Regions from separate parts of the Homo sapiens genome. Here region 2 is linked to region 1. The links come from fine-mapping of genetic effects on gene expression. A gene starts in region 1. The other region holds a variant in brackets. All regions are shown on one strand. Distances are between the middles of the regions.

What was found. PIP is the estimated chance that this variant, and not a neighbour inherited with it, causes the effect.
Region 2: its variant is fine-mapped to the expression of TRDN in iPS cells (iPSCORE, PIP 0.95).

Annotation. Positions count from the first base shown.
Region 1 is chr6:123,635,509-123,638,433 of GRCh38, forward strand. TRDN (triadin) reads right to left here and starts at 1,442. Exons shown (of 41, transcript NM_006073.4): 1 at 1,246-1,442. The coding sequence starts at 1,267. The region is part of intron 1 of LOC105377981 (a long non-coding RNA gene); the gene reads left to right.
Region 2 is chr6:123,584,238-123,587,162 of GRCh38, forward strand. The region is part of intron 1 of TRDN (triadin); the gene reads right to left. Among named protein-coding and RNA genes, the nearest start is that of TRDN, 51 kb to the right of the region's middle. The variant T/C (reference allele first, on the strand shown) is at 1,489.

The sequences.
Region 1 (2,925 bases):
TTCTGAGCAAAATACCTAACACATAGAAATCTCTCAGTAATTGTTATTAATACGAGGTGTCAGACTGAATTTCTCAGTGCAAGGTACAAATAAGGCACTTCTTATAAATATTGACTAAAAATCTCCAACAGAAATTACTGTGTGTCCATACTAATTTCTACCCTCAAAAATAAAAACAAATATTCTATTTTTCAGTTGTATTATTCAAAGCAAACCAGCACAGCATTTAACTTGGAAGTTGTTAAGAGCACCACCTGTCTGATTTTCTTACAGCTGTCAGAAGCAAATTTTAGATCCACCTCCAAAAGTTTTACCTCAACTAGAACCAGACTGTGTCTGTATTCAAAGTAATTTAGTTTTGAAGGTTTCCTTCATTCTAAGAAATACGTACATATATATATGAAGTATATATGAAATATAAATATATATAACTAGCAACCATCAAATAGAAGATATGTATTATAGTATGTAGCTTTCAGTAAAGCATTGAAACAGAAAATATTTATTGTAACATAAAGATAGAATTTACCATTTAGAGGAAAATGAAGAATGAATTTACAAAAAGAACCAGAATTCTAACACTTAATTGCTTTATTTTAAAAATCATACTGATTCACAGTAAGTTTGTGGAATTCCAGTCTTTATCTCTGAATTTCCATTAATGGTCAAATAAATACAAATTTTATGGGAACACTTATGTCTTAAATTGTATATAAATCATATATATGTATGTGTGTTTTACATACCCTAGTAGGAAAGGAAAAACAAATTTAAGGTCTCCATTTAAAAATATCATAAAGCAGAAATGCTTCAAATTACTTTTTAAGTTTAAGTAAGCATTAGTGTAATATTTTAAGTAAGCATTAGTGTAATATTTTAAGTTCATCATGGTCTCCATCCTTGAAAACTTTGTAATTTTTGCTGGATAAGATATCGGCCATCATGTTACATGACCATAGCTATTTATAGAGGTGTGAGTAACAACTGTTAACTAGTGGGGCCTTTGGTATAGCAGAGAACAGTTTCCACATGCAAAATTTAAGAGAAATCTCTTTTTGCTCCCCCAATATACAGATCTGGCAGCCTCTCAGCTCCTAAATCCACTTCTCAGATCCTGTATAGAATCATTGACCAAGGCAATTACCTTAAAGCAACATTTTAAATGGACACATCGACAGTTAATGTGGCTGTCGATTTGCATATTTTTTTTCCTTACTTGATACTATCGGAAAATGGTAGCAATACCTTCAGCAGTGATCTCAGTCATGGTGGTCGTCAAAAGTAAAAGTCAGTTGAAAAGTTCCCGTCAAGTTGCACTTTGCAGAGTATTTGGGGATTTGAGAACTCTGGTGGAGGGTTCTGTGTCAAAACCTGGGGGCTCTTCGTTTTCCTGGCTGTTTCTGCTGCTTCTTTGTTGTCCTGTTGAACTTTGCCTCTCCTCTGCAGAGTTCTCCCCCTGGAAACAACCTAAGCCCTTTCCAAGCAGCACTTGTGGCTCAGCTAGAAGTATCAGCTTCAAACAAAAATAGCCTCATCTCCCTAGGACTCTTCAGCACTTTTTTTTTTCTTTTTTGGCACTCTAGAGGAACACACACACAGACACACCAGCTCTTCAGCCCCAAAGAGAGAAAGGCAAAAAACAAACAAACAAACAAAAAAAACCAAATGAACTACAAAGTACCATCTAAGCCCCCGCAGTTTCTCTAAGATAATTACAGATCCTGGGGTCTATGTCAGAAAACATGAAATAAAGAGTTGAAAGTAATCTTATCCGTGAGAGCTCAGATTTATTCTTAGTGCTCTTAATGCTCAGAACATTCTTCTTTCCCTTATTTGGTTTGGGGAGGGTCCCAAATGTCTATCACAGGCAAAAGGGAGGGTAGTCTTGAGTAATTTTCTAGAAGTTATGTTCCTGTTGATACAAATCCACTTAGCAAGTGCAGTTATTTATATAGGGCTACACTTAAAATTGCAACTATTAAATCTTGAAGCTTTCTTTTAAAGTAGTCATATTGTAGAAGATTAATATTTTCTGAACACTGGCCAATAAGAATTATGTAATGTGAATTTATAGTGTGATACTTGAAAAACATTGGATTGATGAATTACTATCTTTTTAATTCTCTCTACTACCTTACTAAGAACTAAATACCTGCATTTATCCATGCAGTAAAAAGGAAGGGAAGGTGACATAAAGTTTAGTAGTCCACAGCCAATATTTAAGTAAAGTATTTCCTTATCTCAACTTAAAAAAAAAAGGATTATAGCAGCCACTAACAATTAACCAAATTGGCTGATTAGCATTTCACCTTCCCACTCCTAGACAGGTGTTAATGAGCAAAAAAATATTCAATAGTTGGTAGTTGGAAGCAAAAGGAGAATCGAAGGGCATTGATAATCATAAACTCTAGCCAATCTGTGAATAATCAAGGGTTGACTACACTTTTATTTTATTCTCATATTCAACCTAATAAATGCTTGTAGTTTAATCTTTTAGCTTGAACTTGATACTTTTCGTTTTCAGACCTCCCGAATTCCTATGGTACTTCATAGATCATGAAGCAAAGCCATGTTTGTTATTTTTAAAATTCAGGCTCAGAAGAGTGCTGCAACAGCTATTTCCATAGGCAATGACCTCCTCCCTGTTAGTGGTTCTGTCTTAATCTACTGCCCCCATTCCTGACACAATAGAAAGTTGCTCATTTACCAGCTGAATACATAAATTAGTAACAAATCTTAATTTACAAGGAGGAAATGATTACATGATTACATTCATGATTTTATTCAATTCCTATATCTAGGACTGGGCCTAGAGCCTTTTAACTACAAGTTTGCTATCTTCCCCAAGAAATGAGGCCTTGTTGCAGATACTATGACTTAAGGTAAAGGGGGTCACTGCAAATTAGGCCCACTAGCGGGATGAAA
Region 2 (2,925 bases), 51 kb before region 1:
AAGGAGCCGGGGAGCAGAAAGTATATGCGTCAGATATGAGGAAGAAAATAGATTTTGGAAGTTATGAGAAATGTAGAGAGTAAGTTGAGCATAGTTTGTGATTTTGACGGCCTCTAAAAGTATTAGGGTGGCAGCAGCCGCTGCACGGAGACATGATGCCTAGGCTAAAACAGTAAGGTCAAGTTGTTTGGACAGAAAGGCTACAGGGTGCGGTCCTGGCTCTTGTGTAAGAATTCTGACCGCACTAACCATGCCTAGGAAGGAAAGGAGTTGTTGTTTTGTAAGGGATTGAGGTTTGGGAGATTAATCGGACACGATCAGCAGGGAACGCACGTGTGTTTTTATGAGATTATGCCGAGATAGGTAACAGATGAGGATGAAATTTGGGCTTGACTGAAGTAATGGGGGCTGTCTGTGAAGCCTTGCGGCAGTACAGCCTAGGTAATTTGCTGAGCCTAGTGGGTGTCAGGGTCAGTCCAAGTGAAAGCCAAGAGAGGCTGGGATGAAGGGTGGAAAGGAATAGTAAAGAAAGCATGTTTGAGATCCAGAACAGAATAATGGATTGTGGAGGGAGGTATTGAGGATAGGAGAGTATATGGATTTGGAACCACGGGGTGGATAGGCAAAACAATTTGGTTGATAAGGCGCAGATCCTGAACTAACTTGTAAGGCTTGTCTGGTTTTAGGACAGGTAAAATGGGGGAATTGTAAGGAGAGTTTATAGGCTTTAAATGGCCATGCTGTAGCAGGCAAGTGATAACAGGCTTTAATCCTTTCAAAGCATGCTGTGGGATGGGATATTGGCATTGATTGGAGTAAGGGTGATTAGGTTTTAATGAGATGGTAAGGGGTGCATGATCGGTTGCCAAGGAGGGAGTAGAGGTATCTTATACTTGTGGGTTAAGGTGGGGGAATACAAGAGGAGCACGCAAAGGAGGCTTTGGATTGGGAAGAAGGGCAGCAATGAGATGTAGCTGTAATCCAGGAATAGTCAGGGAAGCAGATAATTTAGTTAAAGTGTCTCGGCCTAATAGGGAACTGGGCAGGTGGGGATAATTAAAAGGAGTGCTTAAAAGAGTATTGTCTAATTTGGCACCAGAGTTGGGGACTTTTAAGAGGTTTAGAAGCCTGGCCATCAATACCCACAACAGTTATGGAGGCAAGGGAAACAGGCCCTTGAAAAGAAGGTAATGTGGAGTGAGTAGCCTTGGTATTGATTAAGATGGGGACAGACTTATCCTTCACTGTTAGAGTTACCCGAAGCTCGGCATCCATGATGGTCTAGGGGGCTTCCGAGGCGATTGGGCAGCGTCAGTCTTCAGCCGCTAAGCCAAGAAGATCTGGGAAGGAGTCTGAGAGCCTTGGGCCAGAGTTCCAGGGGCTCTGGGAGTGGCTGCCGGGTGAGTTGGACAGTCCGATTTCCAGTGGGGTTCCGTACAGATGGGACGTGGCTTAGGAGGAATCCTGGGCTGCAGGCATTCCTTGGCC[T/C]GGTGGCCAGATTTCTGGCACTTGTAGCAAGCTCCTGGGGGAGGAGGTTCTGGAGGAACGCCTGCCCGCTGTGGTTCAGGCATTTGGAAGTTCTTGTGTGCTGGAGATGTGGCTGGGGTTTGTCTCACAGTGGAGGCAAGGAATTGCAACTTTTTTCTATTATTGTACACCTTGAAGGCGAGGTTGATTAAATCCTGTTGTGGGGTTTGAGGGCCAGAATTTAATTTTTGGAGTTTTATTTAATGTCGGGAGCAGATTGGGTAATAAAATGTATTTTGAGAATAAGACGGCCTTTTGACCTTTTAGGGTCTAGGGCTGTAAAGTGTCTCAGGGTTGCTGCCAAACGAGTCATGAACTGGGCTGGGTTTTTCATATTTGATGAAAGAGTCTAAATGCTCACTGATTTGGGAGAGGTCTGATAAAGAAAAAGGAGCATTAACCTTGACTATGCCTTTAGCTTCAGCCACCTTTTTAAGAGTAAATTGCTGGGCAGGTGAGGGCTAGTCACGGAATGAAACTGTAAGCCGGACCGGGTGTGAGGAGGGGAGATGATAAAAGGATTATAGGGTGGAGGACCGGAGGCTGAGGAAGAATTGGGACCTAGCTCGGCCTGGCGAGGAGGGGAGAGGTCAGATGTGTCTGTAGAAAAGGAAGAGTAGAAAGACTCAGTGATGCTTGGGGTTGGGACTGAGGGGACAGGTGGGAGGGAAAGGAGGAAGATTTGGGATGAGTTGCATTGGGAACAGAGACTATAGAGGGACTGATGTGTAAAAGAATGCCTGGATGTCAGGCACCTCAGACCATTTGCCCATTTTACAACAAGAATTATTTAGATCTTGAAGGATGGAAAAATTGAAAGTGCCGTTTTCTGGCTATTTGGAACTACTGTCGAGTTTGTATTGGGGTCAAGCGGCATTGCAGAAGAAAATAAGACACTTAGATTTTAGGTTAGATGAGAGTTGAAGAGGTTTTAAGTTCTTAAGAACACAGACTAAGGGAGAAGAAGGAGGAATGGAGGGTGGAAGGTTGCCCATAGTGAAGGAGACAAACCCAGAGAAAAGAGAGAGTAGAGACATGGAGGGAAGGGGTTTGGGGGTTCTTACCCTCCAGAAAAGCGGGAAAGGGGTCGGGGCACAGAGATACAAGGTCAGGGCATGGAAATAAGGGATTGGGGTGCAGAGATATAAGAGGTTAGGGCACAGAAATAATGGATTGGGGTACAGCGATATAAGAGGTTGGGGCACGGAAATAAGGGATGGGGGCACAGAGATATGAGGTTGGGGTACTTGCCCCTCCTCTAGAAAAGCGGGACTTGCTGCTCAGGGTGAAGGAAAAGGGGTTGGGGGTTTCTTGCCCCCCAGAAAGGTGGAAAAGAGGTAGAGACACAGAGAGAAGGGGTTGGGGTACTTGCCCCTTCCCCAGAAAAGCGGGACTTGC